Linked DNA regions of Homo sapiens. The protein of the gene in region 1 purifies or fractionates together with the protein of each later gene. This does not show direct contact. Each region holds a gene or a part of one and is shown in the gene's direction. Other genes may lie near its edges. The genes, in order: BCKDHB, NNT, TTC5, SLC25A13, KATNIP, LARS2 and ACBD3.

Region 1 (3,500 bases):
AGTGAGAATTGAATTATACGCTAATAAAATTGTACCTAGTGGTTCGAATGGATCGTCTAAAGGGTTTATCAAACTTCTCTAATTTGAAGGGTCTCAAACTCCAAAATCTGCCTCCTTGTTGGTGGGCACAGCTCTTTTAACTGGGAGAGATTATTTGCTGCTGGGCTTTTGGAGTGTCCTGTGGGCACAAGTGTTGGCAAGGATTTGATCAGTTTTTGCACAGATTTTGGGGCTCCTCCATGCTGTGCCCTTCTTTTAGGGATTTAGTCTCTCAATTTTCAACCACTGGTAGCCACAGACTATTTTCTGACACCTCAGATCAACCAGACTGAGTCTATTTGTTTGAATTTTAGCTGTCCTGACTCATAGACTGGGGAGTCCTTTTGCAGGACAAGGCTTATGAACGTCATGGTCATCCACTGGGCTTAATTTCTTTCAAGAGTCAAGACTCCAGTTTATGCCTACTTTTGGCCCTTCAATGCCTTTAAATAGTTGTTTGTTTTATTTTGCCCAGAGTTTATAATCATTAAATGTGGAAAGGATAGTCTGAAAAACGCAACTCTGACATTACGTTCAGAACCTCAATAAGATATTTTGTATAGTTTTTTCATTATTATTCAATTTAAAATACCACTTTCTAATTTTCATTATAGTTTCTTCTTTGAGCTGTGAGTTACTTAGCTATTTATTAAAAAAAATTTCTAGCCAGGCCCGGTAGCTCATGCCTGTAATCCCAGCACCGTGGGAGGTCGAGGCGGGTGGATCACCTGAGGTCAGGAGTTCGAGACCAGCCTGGCCAACATGGTGAAACCCCGTCTTTCCTAAAAATACAAAAATTAGCTGGGTGTAGTGGTGGGCGCCTATAATCCCAGCTACTCGGGTGGCTGAGGCAGGAGAATGGCTTGAACTCAGGAGTCAGAGGTTGCAGTGAGCTGAGATTGCGCCATTGCACTCTAGCCTGGGTGACAAGAGCAAAACTCCATCTCAAAAAAAAAAAAAATTCTAACATAAGAATTTTTTGAATGATCTTTTTATTGATTTCTAACTTAATTACACTATGGTCAGAGAATATATGTAATTTTCATCTTTTAAAATTTGTTGAGATTGGATTTGTAGTCCAGTATATGGTCAATTGATGTCAGTGTTTTCTGTTTAATTGAAAAGGATTTGTATTCTTTGCTTCTGGGTGCAGTGTCCTTTGTATGTCAGTTAGGCCATGTTTGTTGAACATGTTTAAATCATCTCTATTTTTCACACTCCCTCCTTTTTTTTGGTATGCCTTTTTTGTCAGTTATTAAGACTAGTACATTAAAAAATCATCTCCCACTATGTGGTGATTTTGTCCATTTGTCCTTTTAGTTGTGTTGCTTTTTTCCATTTATTTGGAGCCCATTGTTAGATAAGTATAGATTTAGAATTATTTATTTCTTGTGAATTGAACCCTTTAACAGTATGCGTTTTCCCTCTTTATCTCTGGTATGTTTTTTTCCTGAAAGTCTACTTTGCCTGCTATTAATATAGTGACATCAACTTTCTTTTGGTTAGGTTTTTTATTGTCTATTTTTTCCTTCTTTTTTCTTTTTTTTAACAACCTTTCTCTGTCTTTAGAGTTTGTGTTTCCTTTCAAATAGTTGGGTTTTCCTTTCTTTTAAATTAGTGTGACAGTTTTTATTTTCATTGAAACATTAGATTACTTACAATTAATACAATTATTAATTGGATTTAAATAATTCACCTTACTATTTTTTTTTAATAGAGACAGGTTTTCACTATGTTGGCCAGGTTGGTGTTGAACTCCTGGTCTCAAGTAATCCTCTTGCCTTGGCCTCCCAAACTGCTAGGATTACAGGTGTGAGCCACCGTGGCTAGCCATACTCTTTATTTTCTGTTTCCTCTACCTGTTCTATACTTCTCCATCCCATTATTAGTTTACTGAATTTTTAAATGTATTATGCATGACATTACTCTCATTTGCCACATTAACCTTTTTTTCTTTTCTATTTTAAGGAAAAGATAGAGTTTTTAATACCCCATTGTGTGAACAAGGAATTGTTGGATTTGGAATCGGAATTGCGGTCACTGGAGCTACTGCCATTGCGGAAATTCAGTTTGCAGATTATATTTTCCCTGCATTTGATCAGGTAAGTGAATGAACATTTCTAAGGTTGTTCATTCATTGAAATATTCAAGTATTGCCGCTACCCTTCCACCCACCCTTACCTGCATTCTAAACATTTTATTATCCTTTTACTAATGTATTACAATTATAATTTTGTTATGAGCATATATTTAAAGATCTAATAGAATAGTTTAAGCAGATAGATTGGGATTGGGTGAAGTGGCTCACATCTGCAATCCCAGCACTTTGGGAGGCCAGGGTGGGAGGATCACTTGAGGCCAAGAGTTCAACACCATCCTGGGCAACATAATGATAATGAGAACCCATATCTACAAAAACTACAAAAATTAGCCCAGTGTGGTGGCACATACCTGTCATCCCAGTTACTCTGGTGGCTGAGGCAGGAGGATAACTTAAACCAGGAGTCCAAGGCTACAATGAACTGTGATCGCAGCACTGCACTCCCTGGGTGACAGAATGAGACCCTTTCTCAAAAAGAAAAGAAGAGAGAAAGAAAGAAAGAGCGAGAGAGAGGGGAGAGGGAAGAAGGGAGAGGGGAGAGAGGAGAGGAGAGAGGAAGGGAAAGACAAGACCCTGTCTCAAAAAGAAAGAAGGGAAGGGAGGGAGGGAGGGAAGGAAGAAAAGGAAGAGAGGGAGGGAGGGAGGGAGGGAGGGAGTGATGGGATCCTGTCTCAAGAAAGAAAGGAAAGGAGGGAGGGAAAAGCTCATTGTGCTATGGGAAAGGAAGGAAGGAAGGGAGGGAGGGAGGAAGGAAGGAAGGGAAAGACTCATTGTGCCATGGGAAAGGAAGGAAGAAAGGAAGGAAGGAGGGAGGGAGGGAGGGAGGGACGAGACCCTGTCTTAAGAAAGAAAGGAAGGGAGGGAAAGACTTATTGTGCTATGGGAAAGAAAGGCAGGCAGGCAGGAAGGAAGGAAGGAAGAGGGGGAGGGAGGCAGGGAGGGAGGGAAAGACTCATTGTGCCTTGGGAAGGGAAGGAAGGAAGGGAGGGAGGGAGGAAGAACGGAAGGAGATTGGAAGGGAAGGACTCATTGTGCCATGCCCCGTCTTTCTTTCTGACCCTCAGATTGTTAATGAAGCTGCCAAGTATCGCTATCGCTCTGGGGATCTTTTTAACTGTGGAAGCCTCACTATCCGGTCCCCTTGGGGCTGTGTTGGTCATGGGGCTCTCTATCATTCTCAGAGTCCTGAAGCATTTTTTGCCCATTGCCCAGGAATCAAGGTATGTTCATTTATGTACTTTATTTGATTTCTATTTGATGTTTCCATTTTGATTCATTCTATTTAATATCTATGCTTATCTAGAGGAAAGAAAACAAACAGGATTCTTGGAATTTATGTGAACTTAACTGTATTTAAGAA
Region 2 (4,078 bases), on another chromosome or scaffold:
GCAGCAACTCCTGACCCCTACAAAAAGTTTTAAATCAATAACTTAGTTTAAAATCCTTACTAAGTGGGATCATTACTAATCTCACTTCATTGTACCTTCAGTATCTGGAAACCGTCCCTATGGTCACACTTACCACGGCTCATTATTATTTTAAAACATGGGGCTGTGTCATTTCCTGTCTGTGAGTTTGGACTGCAGTGGGAATCCATTAGTTGAATGACCTTCTGTGTAGGTTAATCACAAGACAAGTTCTCAAACTAAGGGTTTCCCTGCGGCTCATTTCTTTTTAAAGTTATGGAATACCTGTTCTGCTTATACCTTTTAGATTCATAATTATTTTTCTTGTATCAAAATTTCAATTAATAGAAATAAATGACGTTACTGACACTTCATGATGATTAAGTTTTGGGCAAGTGAACCATTTTACACTCTATTTTTTATTCCTCCCACTTTTAGTCAGAATACACCTGCAGAATAAGTAACAGAACTGTGTGAAAAGAACGACTAGGTCATTACGGTTAATAGTTTTAGAAAAACAGCCGAGGCCTGGTCTGGAAAGCTCACAACCTCCACCCAGATGCTTTCCAGCCTCGGGGATATTCGTACTAGCAGTGACACTAGCCAGCTTCCTCTAGGCTGGCTCTGATGTTGGAAGACAAGCACGCAGATGTGTGTTACTTTTCAAGCCTGGACATCGTTTCTGAGGAATTTAACTCCACCTCTCCTGCCAGAATGGAAAATCAACGCCCCCCATTCCCGCCCTTCACCAACCCCTCTCCGCCTGCCCCTTTCCCTTGGGTCCTCTCTGTTACAGAAGTTCTGATTTTTCCTAGCGAGCTGGAGGAAAGGCAGGTACCCGGAGTGGAGTTATATTACCTGTTTCTTTGTTCTGATGGGACCCCAGAGAGGACATCACGCTTTGTAACTGGTTCTTCAAGGGGAGAAGCAAATGTGTCCCTGAAAACTTCAGCTGCCGCGTTTGGCACCAGGTTTGATTGACAAGGACTGGCGGAGGGAAAGCGCGGAGGCTGGGCTGGGGGCCGCAGGCCGAGGCAGAGACAAAGAGGTTTCGCCTGTCCCCGAGAGTGGAAGGGCCCCTGGGGGTAACTAGCCTTTGAGCTCAAAGGGGCATTTCGTGAGGTCGCCTTTTGGTTCGGAGAGCGCGCGGCGATCGGGTGGAGGGGGCCTGGCGGGAAGAAAGCTGGGGCGGGGAAGGGGCGCGGGCCGAGGTGGGAGCGGAGCTGCAGTCACGTGGCCGCCCGCCGCCGCGGAGTTGGGGCTGTTCTTCCGGGTTGGAGGCGCAGCGCCGCGGGGCCCAAGCCCGGGTCTGCCAGCGCGACGTCCTCTCGCGGCCCTCAGGGCACAGCCCAAGGCTGTCAGCCTCCCGGCCCAGGTGAGCGCGACGGCACTGGCGGGTGCGGGCAGCCGGGGCGCGCGCCTAGGGCGCAGCTGGGAAAGGGGCTCGGGCCTTTCCTGAAGACCACGGCCCTCGCCGGGAGAGAGACCTGTCAAAGAGCAAAGCGGGGCGGGGTCGGCGGTGTCCCGGGCGCAGGGTGCATTGGGGTGTCCGCAGGCCGCAGGCTTAGGTGGGGAAGAAGCACCGTGCCTCTTGGTGTCCCTTTCTCGTCTCCTGCTGGGGCGATGTCGAAGGGAGTGGGCTGGTGGATTTGGGAACTGGGTCCCCGAAGAGGGCAGGGAATGAGGCGGCAGCTGTGCAGGTGCAGATATTTGCAGCTTTGGGGGACAGCGAGAGTCGTACGGGGTCATTTCGGCCCTCAAGATCGGGGGTGGTGGAGAGGGAGGTCATAGAGGACTTTCGATGGGCGGTTCATCCAGAGAGGTGGCAGCTGGATGCCCTTGAGGTATGCTTGACCCTTGAGGGAGTTCGGAGAGGGTGTCCGGCTGGGGACATAGGAGATTGCGAGCACAAATTGTGAGTGTGAGTTGGGGCGGTCTGGCGGTGGTGGGTACAAGTTTCTGGGGCCTAGGCTGGTGAGGAGGAAGAGACAGCGGAGAGGGCGACCTGGGCAGAGCTAGTTCAAACTCAACAGCCGGAATGACTATTTGCAGCCGTGGCCAATCGGCTTCCTAGGGAGGTTATAAATAGCGGTCTCGTGCAGATGCCAGCGGGTGGCAGTTAGTTGCCGAGCAAGGGACGGCACCGGTGGCAGTAGCCGTGACACCAGTGGCTTTGGGTGAGGTCACGGCGCCTGCCAGCCGAAGCTGGCTCAGTAGGGTATTGTGTCCTTGCTGGTATGTCTCGCTTTTAAAAGCGTGACTTGTTTATGGTTGCCGGTGTCCTTTATTCACCCTGTGGCGCCGGCCAGTCCTTAGGTGGTCTGTTTGTCAGGAGTCTTGTAGGACAGACTTATTCGGAGAAGCGCGTGGGGCTTAGGTGCCTACCTACTCTTCTTATTTAAAGTGTGCCCCTTTTCTTCATTGCACCCCTTTTATTTGTAAACCTTGACTTTTTATTAACAGACAGTTTAGGATTGCCTTCTTTCCAGCAGGTGCGCTTAGGCTGCTTACCTTGGTGATAGAATCAGTTTTCCACAAGGCTACACAAACATTTCCTTTTCAAAGGAAATTTTCCGAAAATCCTTGGAAAATGTGCTCAATAGGTACTTAGGCTTAAGGTCACCTAGCCCTATTCATTCAGTCAAAAATACTGACTTCCTCTGTGTTGTGCAAAGCACTGGGGGAGAGTAATACCAAAGTGAATATAACAGCTGATAAGGATATTCTCAGTCCTGGCAACAACCCTGAGAGGTAGGTGCTGTTATTTTATTTTTTCAAGTCTCGCTCTGTTGTCCAAGCTGGAGTACAGTGGCACAATCACGGCTTACTGCAGCCTGGAACTCCTGGGCTCAAGTGATTCTCCCACCTCAGACTCCCAAGTAGCTGGGACTTCAGGCTTGCACCACCATGCCCTGCTAATTAATTTTTTTTTTTTAGCAATGGGGGTCTCACTGTGTTGGCCAGGCTAGTCTTGAATTCTTGGCCTCAAGCAGTCCTCCCCACTAGCCTCCCAAAGAGATGGCATTATAGGCGTGAGCCACCACCCTGGGTGGGTGCTATTATTCCCCATTTTAAAGATGAGGAAATTAAGTACAGGGAAGTTAAGTGACTTCCCAAGGTCACACAGCCAATAAGTTGCAGAGTGGGGCTTCCAATCCGCAGATCCAGAGCTGACTCTCTTAAATATCTGTGGTATCCTCCCTCTTTAGGTTGGGTGCTTTCCCTCAAGGATTTTAATATCTAATAGGGGAAATAACCCATATAAGTTACATTAAACATACATATGAAAGCAATGCTTAAAAAGTTGTGCTTTTGGGCCGGGCGCGGTGGCTCACGCCTGTAATCCCAGCACTTTGGGAGGCCGAGGCGGGTGGATCATGAGGTCAGGAGATCGAGACCATCCTGGCTAACAAGGTGAAACCCCGTCTCTACTAAAAATACAAAAAATTAGCCGGGCGCGGTGGCGGGCGCCTGTAGTCCCAGCTACTCGGGAGGCTGAGGCAGGAGAATGGCGTGAACCCGGGAAGCGGAGCTTGCAGTGAGCCGAGATTGCGCCACTGCAGTCCGCAGTCCGGCCTGGGCGACAGAGCGAGACTCCGTCTCAAAAAAAAAAAAAAAAAAAAAAAAAAAAAGTTGTGCTTTTTTCCCCTAATTTTGAGTTATAAAGTTTTTTTCTTATTGCTTCAAAGCCACAGGAACACATGGATAAATGAGAGCTTTACAGTGAAGATGGAGGAAAATGTGATGATTAGGATGGAGTATTATCTTTTGTATAAACCTGTACAGGTCAATGATAAGATAGTTTAAATATTCTCTATCTTTCAGGGCCATTTGTATTTGGTTTAGACTTAGTGATATGTATTGCTTTTGCCAAGAAATGACCTCCTGATCTCTGCCCTGTATGTTCACAGTTGAATCAAGTGAAATTTTTCACAGAAATGGGCCTATGAAGGCTTTGGCCCTACTGATGTCTGATGCCCCTGCCAAGGATCTGCTGAACATCAAATTACCATTTTCCAAGTAGAAGGAACAAATTTTCCAGATTTCAGGCCATGAAATA
Region 3 (3,225 bases), on another chromosome or scaffold:
TGCTAGAGACCAGCTTTCTTCCATTTTCCCATTCTGTCATTCCCTAGGGGTGGTCTTCACTATGGTCCAAGATGACAGAGCAATACTGTTCTAATAGTGTTACTAGGCTGAAGGACCAGAGAGAGTTAGATAAATCCTCAGTTTCTTTAGAGTCTAGTGACATGTTTTATAACAGTTTATCTTAATATCCTTGTGGTAAAATGGAGAAATGTGAGTGAGGATTAATAACCAATTGAATTGGCCTGGCACGGTGGCTCAGCCTGTAATCCCACCACTTTGGGAGTCCAAGGCGGGTGGATCACGAGGTCAGGAGTTCAAGATCAGCCTGGCCAAGATGGTGAAACTCCGTCTCTACTAAAAATACAAAAATTAGCTGGGCGTGGTGGCAGGCACCTGTAATCACAGCTACTGGGGAGGCTGAGGCAGAGAATTGCTTGAACCTGGGAAGTGGAGGTTGCAGTGAGCCGATATCATGCCACTGCACTCCAGCATGGGCGACAGAGCGAGACTCCGTCTCAAACAGCAACAACAACTGAATGGCTGTAATACATTAATGTATACAGATGAATTGAGAAGTCTTCTAGTGAAATGGCTCAGATCTTTGTTCTTGGTCCAGTCCTGTTCAGTTTTTGATCAGTGCCTTGAATATCATTGATGACTCATTAAATTTATAAAGAGTGCAGAGGCCTCCTCAGAGAATGGATGGTAGAAATGCATTGATGAGAGAAGTTTTATCTATCTATCTGTCTATCTATCTATCTATCTATCTGTCTCTATCTAAGAAGTCATAAAGGCTGAGTCTAATAAGATAAAATTTTCAGTCCATTCTTTTGGTCCAAAAAGGCTTACATTCTCAGGTATAGCTTCAACATCATATATGAATATTACTAAGAATCTTAGTAGATAAGCTAAAGTCAGTATGAGTAACCAGTCTGATATAGTTTGCAAGAACACTCTTCATGGACTGCACCAAAAAAACCTATGGTAGCAAGAGACAGTTTTTATTAGAAGTACTGTCTGTTATACCACATATGGAGTCTTAAATTAGTTTTGGGTGTCATTTTGAGGCCTAGAGTCATAGAAGAGTGATTAGGAGCTTGTGGGGTATAAAAATAACTTGAGAATTGGCTGAAAGCAACTAGGGAAGATGGGGGTAGTAGTATGTGTAAACATTTGAGGCAGTAGAGATGTGGGACCCAAATACTGTTCCCCTTTTACTCAAATTCTGAGATGAGTTGACATGTTCTGTGTAGGGCTAGAGAGTAGAAAAATGGCCAGTAGGTGGTAGCCACAGAGAAGCAGTGCGTACAAACAAGTAAGTATGCAAAATTTGTACATACGGTTTCAGGAATAACTAGAATACCCATAAAATATCCACCTGCCTTAAAAACTAGAACATCATTGATAACTTGGAAGCCCTTGCATACCTCTCCATGATCTCATTTGTCTTCACAGCTATATAAATCTCATTGTATGATTATACCATAATTTATTCATCCTGTTGTTAAAGGATATTTGGGTTTCCAGTTTTTCTTTTTTTACTACCAAAGCACTACATTATTAATATTCTTGTATATGTCCTGATATGTAAGTGCAAAAGTTTCTTTTACAGCAATGGCTCTTGAAGAGTGGTTCCCAGACCAGCAGCATCAGCATCCCTTGGAACTTCTTTGAAATGCAAATTCTCAAGCCCCCTACCCAGACTTACTGAATTCAAAACTATGTGGGAGGAGCCCAGCAATCTGTGTTTCGCAAACCCTCCAGGTGACTCTGATGCACAGTAAAATTTGAGAACCACTGTTTAAGAGTATTGACATAGAATGGAATTGCTGGATCATAGAGTATATACATGTTCAACTTTTTTGAGAAGCACTAAACATTTCCAAAGTGCTTATATTAGTTTATGTCTCTACTATCAATAGATGAGTCACCCCAATGCTCCCCATCCTCTTCTGTGCTTGGTATTATCTTTTAGGTATTGCAAATACAGGAGATTTGAGTATTATTTCCTTGTGGCCTTAATTTGCATTTCTGATTATTAATGAGCTTGAGCATCTTTTCATATATTTAGAAGCCACTAATATTTTCTCTCGGTAAAATGCCTATTCGAGTCTTTGCACACTGCTGTATTGGATGTCAAATTGATTTATATATTCCCTGTACTAATCGTTTGTCTACATACAGTTTTATCCTGTTTTTTTTTTTATTCTATTGGGTCTTTTGCTGAACAGAAGTTCTTAATTTCAATGTCATTGAATTTATCCATCTTTTATGATAATGCTTTTTGTGTTTTAAGAGGTTCTTAGCTCTCCTAAAGTCATAAGGACATTTTCCCTCTACTGCTTTATGAAGTTATTTTGTCCTTTTCTTACAGTATGACTTTATTTTATGTTATGTACGGATATAATTTTTTTCATAATGAGTAAATAGCCCAGCACCTTTTATTAAAGAATCAATCCTTTCCCTACTGATCTTTAAAGCCCAGTCTGTCTTTTTCTTTTTTTGAAATTGTCTAGCTTTTTAATTTTTACCAACCAGATGATTATAAAATATCACATAGTAGGCATAAATTACATTTCTTTGTCCATTCCTGTTTCTTTTTCTATGAAATCTCTGTTTTCTTTTGTCCAATTTTTATTGGGTTGTCTTCTTATTGATTCCTTACATGTTCTGGATACTAATCCATTATAAATTATGTTTTTCAAATATATTTATCCAAATCGCAGCTTGCTTTTTCATTTTCTTAATGCTCTCTCTTTTTTTTATTATTATTATACTTTAAGTTTTAGGGTACATGTGCACAACGTGCAGGTTTGTTACATATGTATACATGTGCCATGTTGGTGTGCTGCACCCATTAACTCATCATTTAGCATTAGGTATATCTCCTAATGCTATCCCTCCCCCCTCCCCCCACCCCACAACAGTTCCCCGAGTGTGGTATTCCCCTTCCTGTGTCCATGCGTTCTCATTGTTCAATTCCCACCTATGAGTGAGAAAATGTGGTGTTTGGTTTTTTTGTCCTTGCGATAGTTTGCTGAGAATGATGGTTTCCAGCTTCATCCATGTCCCTACAAAGGACATGAACTCATCATTTTTATGGCTGCATAGTATTCCATGGTGTATATGTGCCACATTTTCTTAATCCAGTCTATCATTGTTGGACATTTGGGTTGGTTCCAAGTCTTTGCTATTGCGAACAGTGCTGCAATAAACATACGTGTG
Region 4 (3,500 bases), on another chromosome or scaffold:
GCCGTTTCAGTTCTTTTATCTGTAAGATGAGAGTGACTGCTTTTAACTTCTCAGAGGAGTAGTAAGTCAATATATTAGGTACAGACAGAGGCTCACTGTAAACACCCAAGTGGCAGCTCTTCACCCTTTTCCTGGTTTAGAAATGGCCATTTATCTTTGGGTGCCCCAACCTTAAGGGCAAGAGACAGAGCTGTCTGTCAGGATGATGAGTAGAGTGTGAATATAAGATTAGTTCTAGGAGTCACCTGTGTTCATTTCTTCCTGATATCTTTTCTGGTAAACCATTTTAAAACAAAAAATTTACTGTAAAATTTTTGTTTAGTCCCATTCTGTAATTTGGATCATCTTGAGAGCAAAATGATGACTGACAGTTCAGGTTAAAATAATAATGATACATAACTTTGCCATGAAAATGACTTGTTCCTATTCTTGATTGGTCAGGGATCAGTTCTCTTTAGTTTCTTGTACATCATCAATAATTAATAATTGTATATAACTGCATATTTGTAAGTGCTTATTGGGTAAGAGAGATCAGATGAAAATGTAGGTAACTCATGGTTATTGTTGTTAATTTAAAAAATTACAATATAAGTAAAAAAGACCTGACATATTTCTGAGACTCAGTATTATCACCTTTATGTACAAAGTCACATTATGAAATACCTATATGTGATTCTTTGTACATTTCTCATAAAATGTAACTTTATTTTAAAATTATATTATTCCAGAGGAAAACTGTTACGTTTAAATTAGGAAAATATAGTATTGCTGCTATTAATGCTTTCACCTAGCAATATTTGAGAAGGTATCAGAGTACATCTTTAATTCATACATGTTTTTAAATATTGAGCATAGTTTTTAGTATTACAGAATTTTGCTCAACATGTAATTTTTCTCTATCAAGGCCTATGTAATTGCTCATATTTCCTGAATGAGATAATTTGGGAATGTTGCAGTTGTAAGATCTTTCTCCTACTTTAAAATTACCTTTGTGTATACTTTGAAAAAAGTTGGCATCTGGCCTCAAAGAAGGTGTTTTTGTAGCATGCGATCTTATTATGAGGTTAATAAATATCTCTTTTTCTTATAACAAGAATATCAGAAGCTGTTTTTGCATTTAAAAGCCTTTCCCTGTGGCATTAGAATGAAGGTTATTTTAAAAGAACTCTTGTAGTGCTCCACCACAAGTTTTGTTCTTTGCCTCCCCCGCAGCTGGCTGCATCAGAATAGTTGTGGAAGTTGCTTGGTAGTCATGAGAGAGTGCCTAGCAGTGCTCTTCAATAGAAATATACCTCAGAGAGTCATGAGAGGTGTTGTGAGTTGGTTAATTCCTGCTCTCCATGTATTGGTATAACTCCGTTTTCTTTATTTCCAGGAGCCTCTCTCCTATTTTTGTGTAAGTTTTAGTTGCTGGAAAAGAGCTCCTTAAAAATCCCATGAGTCTGGCTCTGCAAACCTTCTCTACAGTGCAAACTACTTTTTTCCTAACAAGAAAATGGCAAATTTTCCTAGTTTGTTGTTGTTGTTGTTGTTGTTATTTCTGAAAATCCAACCCCCAGGCCAAGCCTGTCTGTATTAAGGGAAATCACACCTGAGATAATCCAGGTCTTCCTGAAGTCACTTTTAAAATTCTTTCTCTGTTTCCTCCCCAGTCTTCAGAGTGATTTAATGTGCTCAGGTATTTGAAATCCTTAATGAATTACCTGACAACTTGTTTGGTTTGAATGACTGGCATAACCAAATGAATCAGTCATTGGCCTGCTATAGATCTGGCGTATTAAAGAACAACAATTGATTGGGTAATCATCCATAATTAAATGCTCTTAATGTTCCAGGAATAAATAATTTCTGCTTTTAAACTTTGTTGCAGTCTTCTCTCTCAGATCTTTCAGGTGATGAGATGAGCAGCCTTAGACACTGGAAAATGTTTTGGGAGAATCTTGGGGAAAAAGATGTATTAAGAGAAATATGGCCGGGTACGGTGGCTTATGCCTGTAATCCCAGCACTTTGGGAGACCGAGGCGGGTGGATCACCTGAGGTCAGGAGTTCAAGACCAGCCTGGCCAACATGGCCAAACTCTGTCTCTACTAAAAATACAAAAATTGGCTGGGCATAATGGCGGGCCTGTAATCGCAGCTACAGGCTGAGGCAGGAGAATCGCTTGAACCCAGGAGGATGCAGTGATCTGAGATTGTGCCGCTGCATTCCTGCCTGGGAGACAAGAGTGAAACTCTGTCTCAATTTAGAAAAAAAAAGAGATAGAAATCAGGGTCTATCAGAAATACTTCTTAGACGAAAATTTTTGTTTCTATTGATGGGAGAAGCCCTAAAGAAAATCTCCCAGAAAGAGTAATTAGATCATTTTATGAATTAAACTTAATTTAAGCAGTGCTTAACCTTTGAGGAAATTGGCAAAAAAAAAACCACATTTTTTAATCAGCCCATTGATCCAAGCTTGCAGAGTTGTAAATATTTCTATTTCAAGTTGTCTGTGTAGTGCAAAGCAGTCATCTTCCATCCTGGAATGTTCTCAAGGTGACATCTAGAGGATGTTGTGGTGATATCTCAGGGAGTTATTGATACTTTTATATTGCAGAGGGAAGTTTTGGCAGGCAGCTAGTTTAAGCCAGGTCCCTTATCATTGATGGTACTATAAAAGGGAGTATCCAGATTCTTTAGAATCACAGTGAGATTCTTCATTCTTGCATAATTCATGGGGATAAAATAAACTTTAAAATTCTGGCACCAAAATAAAATGATTGAAATTTCCATGACTGTTTTGCATTACTTAAGAACACATGCATCTTGAAACAAACCATAGTTAATCTGTGAACTGCACTCATGTCCATCCATGTCCACCAAAACTTTTAATGATTGCAAAATGGATAGGTTTGAGTCTTTATTTTCTTGGCCAATTTCTGCACGTTTTCATTTAGAGCATTAAGCTATAAAAATATCAGAAGACATGTATTTGGTTATAGGAAGCCACATAAGAATGAGCAGAAGATTTCAACAGATCATTTGTTGGGTTAGCCAATCTCCAGAAATCTACAGTGAGCTAACTTTAGTGAGCACAGGGCATTGTAATCTGAGACTGAGGCGACACACACTGGATCTAAGGTGGGTGAGAGAATTGTTAGAGACTTGAGAGTGCTACAGTAACAACTGATGACCTTAGAAAATTGGAAAAATATGACAAAAAGATAGACGTGTAGGTATCCTAGAGAAGAGGTTAATGAATGAATTAGTTCCACACCTCAAAAATGATAATTTATAACCAGCTACTGTTGCTGAGACTAAAACAAGGGAGATAGATTAAACCTCAGTAGGAGGGAAATAGTTTAGATAGAAGAAAAGATAACCAGGATCCTGAACGTTCTCATGTACTATGGTGAAAAACTGCAGGAGTATCTGATCGTTTTCCCCAATTCTCTTTACTTCTAGAAAGCCCCAGAATAGAGGAGTTGAGGAACTGATTTTTTTCCAGACCATAATCATA
Region 5 (3,701 bases), on another chromosome or scaffold:
CAAATGCCTGGTCGTCAGATGCAGGCGAATTTCCCACCCAACCATGAATTCAGAACCTGCTGGCAGTGATTTCAGTGTCACCCTGAGCAAATAGAAAGTGGGTTTTCTTTCGTCTTTTCCTCTAGAATCCCACTGGTTTGGGGCGGTGACCCTGGGATGGGGAAAACAGGGACCCTGGATACCAGAGACCCAAGTTTGCCTCCAGCTCTGCCACTTGTGCTAATGGTATTAAAGCCCCTCGGGCCTCAATTTCCTCATCTGCAATGCATGCTGATAGCTCCTGCCTTTCCCAATGGTTGTGAAGATCTGAAATCACAAGGCAGACACAGCACACAGTAGGCGCTTGTTCCTGACAGCCCCGTCTTCCCGAGGAGAAAGCCTTGGCTCAGAGCAGTAACGCGTTCTGCCCAAGGTCAACGTGGGAGGGACGAGGGGGACCCATGAGTCCTGCCCCGTGTCCCTGCAGCTCCTGGTGGACGACCTGCTTGTGTACAATGGGATCCTGGCCATGGTGAGCCACCTGGTGGGGGGCATCCTGCCCACATGTGAGCCCACCGTGCCCTACCACACCATCCTCTTCACCGAGGACAGGGACATCCGCCACCAGGAGAAACACACCACCATCAGGTAGGGCCCCAGCCGGCCCCATGGCCTCCCCACCAGCCCTAAGGAGGATGGATGGCTGGGACACACGGCCAGGAGCCTGATCGAATCTTGTGTTTCCTTCCTACCCTCAGTAATCAGGCCGAGGATCAAGATGTCCAGATGATGAATGAAAACCAAATCATTACCAACGCGAAACGGAAGCAGAGCGTTGTTGACCCAGGTCAGTGGCGTTTCTCTGCCCAGAGCATTGTGCCTTGGGAGCTCGGTCTGAATATAGAAGGAGCTGGTGGCCTTGCACCCCCACCCTCACCCCTGCCTGCCCCTAGACCGCTCTCCTCTGCCCAGGAGCCTGCCCAAAGGCCTAGGGAGGGACTGAAGAGGATGGAACCAGGGGAGCAACATGCTTCCATCTTCTTGCAGGCACCTGTAACACAGTGGAGCTTCCTGAATCTAAGTGTCGTGGGCACAGAGTGGGGAAGCAGTCAGGGACAGAGCACCATGTTAAAGGGGTTTGCCCCGGGCCGTGGGAAACCAATAGAGGATGCCCAAGGTGAGGGCTTCCCGGAGGAGGTGATGTTTGAGCTGGATCCTAAAGGATGTGAGGAGTGTGCCAGGCAGCCTGGGCAAAGGCTGAGAGGGGTGTTGTGGCAGAGCCTGCTCCAGGCGGAGGGAAGGGGCCAGCGTGCCAGGCGCCCCGAGAGCAGGGACTTTTCCAAGGGCCTTGAATGGCAACCCAGGCTGCTGGATTTCACTGGGGAGTGTGGGGCACCCCTCCAGGGTTTGAGACTTAGTAACTCTGGTCCCTCTGTTCCCTGTCATGACAGCCTTACGTCCCAAAACCTGCATCAGCGAGAAGGAGACGAGACGACGGCGCTGCTGACTGGTGAAGGAGGGAGAGCTGGTCCTCCCACTATGGTGGGCTCCGTCAGCAGCCCCACTCAGTGCCTGCGTCCCTCACCCTCAGTCCCAGGAGCTGGAAGCGAACCACAGTGTTGAGGGGAGCCCGCTGGGAAGAGGGGACTCGGGAGGACAGCCCTGGATACTACCAGAGTGACAGATGGCTGTGGCTGCAGGGCAAAGAGATCCCCTGCAGTTCTGGGTTGGCCACAGGGAGCCCAGGACACCCGCCTTCATGCCTCTGCTGTGAGACCCAGCAAAGCAGGGCCCATGACCACTAGGGCCTGGGCTGACCCTGACTCAGAACAGGACAATGACGGGGTGGGGAGGCATCCCATCCAGCCTCAGAGGGCCCAGAGAATGGCTGAGCAGGACAGTGGGAGACCAGACCCTACCCCGCAACTCCAGTAAGCAGGGCACTGCCCAGGGAGACTGCCTTCAGAAACCTGAGCTTCAGCGGCCAACACCCCCCATCCCCTGCGCATCCTTGTCTCATTTGGGGACTGGTGGAGCTGGCTGAGAGGTTGGGGTAGTTTCCTGGTTACAGGGGTCCACAAGACCCTCTCTCATCCCGGTATAGGGGCCTCTCTCCTCTCATCGGGCCTGATAAGGGATTGGCCAAGGCTGTGTGCATCCTGCAGAGGGAAGGAAGTCAGCTGGGCCACCCGCCATCCACCTTGGCAAGAGCTGGGCCCACTCTGGCAGGCCAGGGTATCATCTGCGTGCTGCTGCCGGGCCAGGAAGGGTGGGTGGGTGGCCAGCAGGCTGGCAGCTCCAGACCCCAGAGGGCCAGAAGAACTCACCCCAGTGCCCTCTGGATGCAGGTGTTGGGGAACACTGAGGACAATCCCCCATCTCCCCTCACCCTTGAGCAGGCCCTCCCTGCACTCTCTGCCACATGTCCCTCCTGGTCTGATCACGGCTGTGCTCACTGATGTGGCTGCTTTCTGTCTCTGCCCCTGTGCCCTTGGAGGCAGGCAGTGAGGTGCTCCTTTCCCAGGCCCCCACCCCTTCTCCCCCTTCAGCCACTTCCCAGCGAGTTGGAAATGTGCCTTGCACCCCCAGCCGAGTGAAGCCCAGAACGCATCTATATGCATCGATGTAACAAGCTCGGATCAGGGACCTAATTGGTTTCCCAGTAGTGGGTAATTTCTCGTTGCAAATATTAATCCGTTGTTTTTCTGGCGCCCAGCCCGGCCCGCCGCAGTACTGTACTCGAGGTACGTTCCTATGCAACCGAGAGCCCCGGCAAATACTTCATGAGCTTAGCAGCCTGGGCTCGAGCAGCTATGCAAACGCGCTTTTCATTTGGAGCACGGGGCTGATGTGAAGATAAGAATTGTTTCTCCTGGAGAAAGATCCATCATTTCTCCAGCTTCCAAGCCCCCGGCACCTCTGCTCAGCTCCCAGATGTGACGAGCACCTCCCGCCAGGGGGAGTCAGGGGTTGATCAAACCAGCTCTTGTGACCCAAACCAGTGCCGCTGCATTAAAGGGAGGCCCAGCTACTCCTTCCCAGCTGAGATGTGGGTACAGGTCAGATTTGTCAGGGAGATGGCACTAACACGACACAAGCTCACTCCCAGAACCGCAGCTGATGTTTATAATAATCGTATGTACTGTGCAATTTAGGAGGGGAAAAAAAGGCTGTACAAGCTTTAACTCTAAAATAAATTTCTATTTTTTTCCTCTTGCAAAATTAATAAAAGATGTTATTAAGAATATAGTCCGAGTCACCGGATTTGGGGTCAGATGGGGAGTCCATGCTGCCTCCAGGAGCTGAGTGACACAGAGAAGCCCTCACTGAGCTGCAGATGGGGTCATGATCTCGCCCTGACTACTCAATGAGATTGTCCTGCCGTATGAGCAGACAACAGTAGCTCATCCATAGAGAGTGGTGATTACATGCCTGGCTCTAACTTGTTTAATCCACGTAACACAACCCTTTGGGGTGGGCACTATTATTATCCTCACTTTACAGATAAGGGAGCTGAGACACAGAGAGGTTGTGCAGCTTTCCTGGGACACACAGCTTTGGAAGCTATTAGCCAATGCACAAATCCTGAGAGGGCCCCTGGAGAGTTGAGGTGGGGGTGACAACACTTGGGTCTTTGGCCCTGGGGTTTCCCTTCACCATGTGTGGATCCTGGAATGGTGGCCCCCAGACCCCCAGTTCCTGGACCTCCTCCCTGCCCACCC
Region 6 (3,500 bases), on another chromosome or scaffold:
TGCCACTTAATGTCTGGTCCCTGGACCAGCAGTACTGGCATCACGTGTCTTAGATCCCACCCTAGTCTAATAAGATCCCTATATGATTTGTATGCACATTAGAAGTTTGAGAATACTGGCTTAGAGCACTCTTAAACTTAACTGCACATTGGAAACACCTGAGAGTTTTAAAATAATACTGATGCCTGGGTCTCACTCCAGATACTCCGATTTGATGGTTATTGGTGGTGAGGGGGGCATGGATCAGACATCAATAGTGTTCAGAGCTCCCTAGTTGATTCTGATGTGCAGCAGAGTCTGGGAACTACTGACTTAACATAGTGATGCCACACCTGGCCATGGCTCTGAATCACCTGGGAGGTGCTTACAGGTCCCATCTTGGCTGATCTTGATTCAGTGAGACCTGAAGATCCAAGTTTTTCAGGTTTGTGACTATCTGGCTATATTTATATCTATAGAATAAAGGAATAATGGTCAGGTTTTCTCCTTTGTAAGGAGTCCATGTTTTATAACCCCATGTTTGTGGCTTTACTTCATAAACTGCATCCCCAGACATGAGTCATGCTCTAAGATATGGACCCTTAGGCCTTTTTTTAGACCTTGTTTGAGCAGGTTTCCTGGAGGTAGAGCAGAGCGAAATCACAGTGTCTGTAAGGAGCCCCAGTTAACCCTCTACAGGGCAAGAAAGGGGACACTTGTGGCCAAAATTAGGCTTCTGAAGTGCCTAGTGAAGCATCCACTCTTTAGTACAGTACTCTGAGCATTAATTATGCTTCCTGGCTTCTTTCACACAGCTTCAGATGGTCTGTTGAAGCCTCTCCTGGCTCTAGGCTGAATATCTAGAGTAAAATAATTATTTCAATAAGTAGAAGGAGAATGGCTGGGGAAAAGCCGCTTTCATCTATGAGCTTCTGGAATGGAAAGACAGTGGTGTTAGGAGAAGACTGACTTTCAGGAGAGCTTTTTATGATTTGCATCACGACTGTGATAATGGGAGTGCAGAAAGACACTTCAGACCATTCATGAAAAGGGCTGCTTTTGATAAACATAGCTGTATTTTCTTATTCTTTATGCCTCTTGACTGTAAGCTCCTTGAGGACATGGGAAGATCATATTTATCTTTGTGGCCCCAATGGCTAGCACGAGCCCAGCACGTATAGATGCCCAGTGGGTCTTCACTGAACAAATGCGAGGGTACCCGCAATCCAGGTTGTTACCAAGCCACACTGGCTCAATTCATATAATTAGTTTGGCTCTCTGAAAAGCACCAAGTGAAAAGATAATTTCTCTTTTGTACTGTTAGTGGTCTGTCCTGCTGTCTATAAAACGGGAGCATTTAAATATAAAAAGAGTGGTCTGGTTCTTCAAGCCGAAGCCTCAGAATGTTCCTCTGCTTGCCTGAATTCCTTCTGCTTTAGGATAATATTGGATTTTTCTTTTCTGAATATTTTCCCCCCAACAGGGGAGTAGTCATTAAAAATCCATATCGTGCAGTTCTGTACTGGCAGCTAAAAGCTGATATTTGATGATCTCTGTAGGTGTCACAGGGCTCTGGTGATAAAGCAAGCCACAGAACCAGGGCCAACTTAGACACATTAGACACAGTAGACACAGTGCCTAGGGCCCACAATACTTTTAGAGGCCTCTGCAAAAGTTTTAATTTCTTTTAAAATCAGAAGAAAAAAATGAACTTTTAGGGTCAAAAGTTATATTTGTCTTTATATTGATGCAGTTGTAAAATATAATTTTTAATATTATCTGAAGGAGCAAGGAGCCTACAAAGGCAGAAGCACCTAGGGCTCATGAAAGTTATGACACAGCTCTGCACAGAACTGGTCCCTTGGGAGAGCCACACATAAACATGGCAGGACTGGTGGCAGCATCAGGGTGGTGACTGGTGCTATGCGGAGAGGAGTGAGCTTTCTTTTCTTTCCCTGTCAGTTCACAGGTATGACCCGGCAGGATGCTTTTCTAGCCCTGACTCAGAAAGCCCGGGGGAAGAGAGTGGGTGGAGACGTGACAAGTGATAAACTGAAAGACTGGCTGATTTCACGGCAGCGGTACTGGGGCACACCAATCCCCATTGTCCACTGCCCAGTCTGTGGCCCCACACCTGTGCCCCTGGAGGACTTGCCTGTGACCCTGCCCAACATCGCGTCTTTCACTGGCAAGGGAGGCCCCCCACTGGCCATGGCTTCAGAGTGGGTGAACTGCTCCTGCCCAAGGTAAGGAGCCACATCCCTGCAGTGGTGACTGTGCCTATGGCCCCATACCTGCTAGGGCTTCAGACAGCCTCCTCCCTCCTGGTGCTAACTCTGCTCCCTTTTTCCCTGACTTCCATGAGGCTGGAAAGAACACTGTGGGTCTTTGGGGCCCTTTAAGAGAAGGGTCTGGAATCTGTGGCCCTGCCTCTGCAATGGGCATCCTCCCTTCTCTGAGCTGTTGGAAGCAGCAGTGTCAGTTCAGATCTATCCCAGAAACATCTGATCCAACTGATGGAAAAGCTCTAAATTTTCCTTACAGCTTTGTAAAAAACCACTTTCCTCCATTTTGATATTCCAAAGAGCCACGTGGAGAGGGGAGAAAATGTTCTCTTCTCCACCTTGCAGTTTTCCAATATAGTGACTGTAACAACAGTGGAGATTTTATCATGAGTAGCAGAGTAGTTGCTAAGAGAGCAAGTGTGCTCAGGGCTGCATTCTTTAATATGCTGAAGCACCATGGTTCCTTTCTCCTCATTTTGGAAGTGGGATTATGTTTTTCTGTCTATTCACTGGCATGTCTCAAGCATGATTTTTAATGATGCTGTCCATATCAGCTAATTAAACAAATAGCAGATACCAAGTTCCAGTATTTTCCTTCTTCTGCGGAGAAGCCATTTTTCTCTGCCTTATAGATCATGATGAGGATATTATAAAATAATTTTGTATTCTGCCAGTATAGAGCTGAGTTACTAGGTTGACAATTAGGTAACCACGTAGTGTAATTGGAAGTCTTGAGCTGGGTGTCAAATCAGTGATGGATTCAAGTCCTGGCTCTGCCTCCTAACTAACTGTCTAGCCTTGGGAAAGTCATTTACCTTCTCTGAGCGTGAAATCCCTCATCAGGAACAAAAATAACCCCATTGAAGGGCTTTTCAGAAGACTAGAATTAACACATGTGATCCTGCACAGTGATACCTTCTAGGCCTTCAATAAATAGAAACTTTATGGCCATCCAGCCAGGGACTTGCCAGCCATCCTCCCAGGTCCTCACTGAGGCAGTTTTGAAATTCAAGGTGGAACTTGGAGGGAGGTATATAGGAAGGCCCAGACCATTTTAGGGTAGAAATGTTGGCTCCAGGAGGAAAATAGCACACCCTCTTTGTTGATAAGCGCTGACAAAGGGCTTCCCTACCAGAGATGTTGGTGGCCTGCATACAGCACAGCAGTTGTGGCCTTATTGATGAGGATAAGGTTTCCTGCTTGGCTGCAGAATTACTGGAGGGCAGAACCTAGGCC
Region 7 (3,500 bases), on another chromosome or scaffold:
CTAACACTTCATGGTTAGGGAACACTTTCTTCATTAGTGGGACCTTGGGCTGAAAATGTTATGAGGCCAGGCTCCTGTAGGGGACTGGGGCCTAAACCTGAATTTTTCTGAATGCCAGGAAAATCTATTTGGCAATTTGCTATTTTACTCCTTTCTGAATACTATTTTACTTCTAACCGTGTGTGTTGAAAAGCCAAATATGCAAGATTACTTCAAAAAAAATTTTTTTTTTTTTGAGACAGAGTCTCACTCTGTCACCCAGGCTGGAGTGCAGTGGCATGATCTCTGCTCACAGTAGTCTCGGCCTCTTAGGTTCAAGCGATTCTCCTGCCTCAGCCTCCTGAGTAGCTGGGATTACAGGCACGCACCACTGTGCCCGGCTAATTTTTTGTATTTTTAGTAGAGACGAGGTTTCACCATGTTGGTCAGGCTGGTCTCGAACTCCTGACCTTGTGATCCACCCGCCTCGGCCTCCCAAAGTGCTGGGATTACAGGCGTGAGCCACAGCACCCGACCCACTTTGAAAAATTTTAAAGGAGCAAGTAAGAATTCCTGTCAACCCTGGCATTTATTTAAATTTATATTGTTGATATTAGCATTTTAGGTCATTATTCTAAAATTTTTTATGTAAATACAGAAACTCACCAGAATAGTCCACTTAAAAAAATTTCAATTATTTTTCCATTTGGAAATCCCTATTTTGCTAGAGTGGAATTTTTTTACTTCCTCTGAATAAGTAGACAAAATTGGGTGTTTTAAAGGACAGTCTAAAATATCTTGGTCTAAGAAATAGGTTATAAATGTATTGCTTTTTGAGAAGAGGGTCTCTTTATTTTTGTTACCCAGGAAAGTTAGAATGTAGGGTTTGTTTATATACACTTAATAAGCACTTAATTTATTTGTTGACTTGATTGAAAGTGATATGGAATGCATGCCCTGTGAGAATGGAAAAGCACCATGTCTCAGTTCTTCCAGACTAACTGACCTTTCAGGTGGCTTGTAAACAGACTGCTTGTTCTTGAAGAGGGTTGGCAATGTTGCTTTACAGATTACAGTGGGATAAAGTTAAAAAGATATTATTGAAAGTACATGGAATAAGCCTGAAAGTTCTATCAACTTGTGAAGTACAGAGTTGTCCAATCATATTACCATACCATGCAACACCCTGGGGCCTCTGGGGCTATCTACAGAAACATACACTGCAGGTGTGCCATACATTTCTTGAAATTAAGTTTAATATTCAATTTAACAGTTAATATTTAATGCTAATCAAAAGATAATCCAAAGATAATTCCGTATCATTATCTACATGAACCATCAGAGTATCCCAGAAATTTCAGTACATCTTGCAGATTGACTTTTACCCCAGAAGCAGATTTAAAATCCTTCATTATACCACAGGTCCAGATTCTAGCTGGTAAATATGGAAGCATGAGCTGCTTTGTCTTACACGGCATTTTGTTTTCATCAGTCTTTATTCCTGAGTACCACCAGCAAGGCAAAGCATTGCTCATAAATAATACTGACTGAGACAGAAAGAAAAAATGTAAGATTGAAAAAGCCTGGGCCGGACGCGGTGGCTCACGCCTGTAATCCCAACACTTTGGGAGGCCGAGGTGGGTGGATCACAAGGTCAGGAGTTCGAGACCAGTCTGGCCAACATGGTGAAGCCCTGTCTCTACTAAAAATATAAAAATTAGCCGAGCGTGGTGGTGGGTGCCTGTAATCCCAGCTACTCGGGAGGCTGAGGCAGGAGAATCACTTGAACCTGGGAGGCAGAGGTTGCAGTGAGCCGAGATCACACCACTGCACTCCAGCCTGGGCAACAGAGCGAGACTCCGTCTCAAAAATAAAAAAAAGAAAAAGCCTGTCTGGGCATGGTATCTCATGACTGTAATCTCAGCTTTTGGGGAGGCCAAGTAAGGAAGATCTCTTGAGGCCAGAAGTTTAAGACCAGTCTGGGCAACCCGTTTTGTAGAGTGACACCACATCTCGACAAAAAAAATTTTTTTTTAGTTAGGTGGGTGTGGTGGCATGTACCTGTAGTCCCAGGTACATGGGAGGCTGAGGCAAGAGGATTGCTTGAGTCCAGGAATTCGAGGCTGTAGTGAGCTATATGATCACACCACTGCATTCCAGCCCGAGCGACAGAGCTAGGCCCTCCCTCTAAAAAAAAAAAAAAAAAATTAAAAAAAATAAAAAGCAGTTAGAGAGCAGGACTGTAGCAGATTAGCCAGGGGGCACTACTGTTTTCTCATGTGACCTTCAACAACATCAGAACCTGTTCTGTCCTTTCTGTTGCATCACAGGGACTCATTAAAGTCAGACTGTCTGCAGATGTCTGGGAAGGAAAGTTTTTTGTATGCATACAAATTACTGTACTTACAAAGAGCTTTGTGAGGCCAGGCACGGTGGCCCCTGCCTGTAATCTCAGCACTTTGGGAGGCCAAAGCGGATGGATTGCTAGAGCTCAGGAGTTCAAGACCAGCCTGGGCAACATGATGAAACCCTGTCTCTACCAAAAATACAAAAAACTAGCTGGGTGTGATGGTGTGCACCTGTAGTCCCAGCTACTTGGGAGGCTGAGGTGGGAAAATTGCTTGAGCCCAGGAGGTAGAGGTTGCAGTGAGCTGAGATCAAGTCACTTCACTCCAGCCTGGGCCACAGAGCCAGACCCCATCTCAAAAAAAAAAAAAAAAAAAAAAAAAAAAAGATGGCTGGGCGCAGTGGCTGACACCTGTAATCCCAGCACTTTGGGAGCCTGAGGTGGGTGAATCACCTGAGGTCAGGAGTTCAAGACCAGCCTGGCCAACATGGTGAAACCCCATCTCTACTAAAAGTACAAAAATTAGCCAGGCATGGTGGCACATGCCTGTAATCCCAGCTACTTGGGAGACTGAGGCAGGAGAATCGCTTGAACCCGGGAGGTGGAGATTGCAGTGAGCTGAGATCGTGCCATTGCACTCCAGCCTGGGCGACAGAGCCAGACTCCGTCTCAAAAAAAAAAAAAAATGAAAGAGCTTTGTGAATAAGAATTCTCTGTTCAGAAGTTGGTTGAGGTAATGTATTTCTCCTGGCTTGCCTATTAGAGAGCTTCTAAAAGGTGGTTACTGCCTAGTCTGAACCCTCAGCTGATGATAGTTTTGGGGTTATATTGGTGTTGGGAAGATCACTAGTGAAAATGGCAGGGGTTCATTTCTAGAGGTAAGAACCTTAATATCCTTGATCTTAGTTCTAATATGTCCCTCAAATGAAAGATGGCATTCCCTGTACTTGTACCATTCCTAATCATAAAATGATTTGCAGCTAAAACATTTTAGCCTCACAGCAGTGAAGCTTTATCATTCCTAAGAATTGTTCATTACATGAGCGTCACTTCATCCCATTTAAAGATTTAGCTCACAAATTGTATTTGTCCATATGCCTTAGAAGCTACTGTCCTACCGTGTCTTGTATTTCATATGGTAGAAGAGTCTGAGTTTTTTGGGTTTTGGTTTGGT

What was found.
Region 2: the proteins of BCKDHB (region 1) and NNT fractionate together in Homo sapiens (co-fractionation; one large-scale study listed by BioGRID). This does not show direct contact.
Region 3: the proteins of BCKDHB (region 1) and TTC5 purify together in Homo sapiens (affinity purification with mass spectrometry; one large-scale study listed by BioGRID and IntAct). This does not show direct contact.
Region 4: the proteins of BCKDHB (region 1) and SLC25A13 fractionate together in Homo sapiens (co-fractionation; one large-scale study listed by BioGRID). This does not show direct contact.
Region 5: the proteins of BCKDHB (region 1) and KATNIP purify together in Homo sapiens (tandem affinity purification; one large-scale study listed by IntAct). This does not show direct contact.
Region 6: the proteins of BCKDHB (region 1) and LARS2 purify together in Homo sapiens (affinity purification with mass spectrometry; one large-scale study listed by BioGRID and IntAct). This does not show direct contact.
Region 7: the proteins of BCKDHB (region 1) and ACBD3 purify together in Homo sapiens (pull-down; one large-scale study listed by IntAct). This does not show direct contact.

Annotation. Positions count from the first base shown.
Region 1 is NC_000006.12:80,165,671-80,169,170, forward strand, and holds part of BCKDHB (2-oxoisovalerate dehydrogenase subunit beta, mitochondrial isoform 1 precursor), read left to right. Parts: intron 1-2,007; coding exon 2,008-2,141; intron 2,142-3,204; coding exon 3,205-3,360; coding exon of another isoform or gene 3,361-3,387; exon of another isoform or gene 3,388-3,500. UniProt on the Homo sapiens protein: Together with BCKDHA forms the heterotetrameric E1 subunit of the mitochondrial branched-chain alpha-ketoacid dehydrogenase (BCKD) complex.
Region 2 is NC_000005.10:43,601,902-43,605,979, forward strand, and holds the start of NNT (NAD(P) transhydrogenase, mitochondrial), read left to right. Parts: upstream 1-1,278; 5' UTR 1,279-1,393; exon of another isoform or gene 1,394-2,769; intron 2,770-4,078. UniProt on the Homo sapiens protein: The transhydrogenation between NADH and NADP is coupled to respiration and ATP hydrolysis and functions as a proton pump across the membrane. May play a role in reactive oxygen species (ROS) detoxification in the adrenal gland.
Region 3 is NC_000014.9:20,285,727-20,288,951, reverse strand, and holds the end of TTC5 (tetratricopeptide repeat protein 5), read left to right. Parts: 3' UTR 1-2,725; downstream 2,726-3,225. UniProt on the Homo sapiens protein: Cofactor involved in the regulation of various cellular mechanisms such as actin regulation, autophagy, chromatin regulation and DNA repair.
Region 4 is NC_000007.14:96,179,099-96,182,598, reverse strand, and holds part of SLC25A13 (electrogenic aspartate/glutamate antiporter SLC25A13, mitochondrial), read left to right. Parts: intron 1-3,500. UniProt on the Homo sapiens protein: Mitochondrial electrogenic aspartate/glutamate antiporter that favors efflux of aspartate and entry of glutamate and proton within the mitochondria as part of the malate-aspartate shuttle.
Region 5 is NC_000016.10:27,777,144-27,780,844, forward strand, and holds the end of KATNIP (katanin-interacting protein), read left to right. Parts: intron 1-466; coding exon 467-627; intron 628-737; coding exon 738-826; intron 827-1,430; coding exon 1,431-1,486; 3' UTR 1,487-3,201; downstream 3,202-3,701. UniProt on the Homo sapiens protein: May influence the stability of microtubules (MT), possibly through interaction with the MT-severing katanin complex.
Region 6 is NC_000003.12:45,489,576-45,493,075, forward strand, and holds part of LARS2 (leucine--tRNA ligase, mitochondrial), read left to right. Parts: intron 1-1,941; coding exon 1,942-2,225; intron 2,226-3,500.
Region 7 is NC_000001.11:226,148,742-226,152,241, reverse strand, and holds part of ACBD3 (Golgi resident protein GCP60), read left to right. Parts: intron 1-3,500. UniProt on the Homo sapiens protein: Involved in the maintenance of Golgi structure by interacting with giantin, affecting protein transport between the endoplasmic reticulum and Golgi. Involved in hormone-induced steroid biosynthesis in testicular Leydig cells.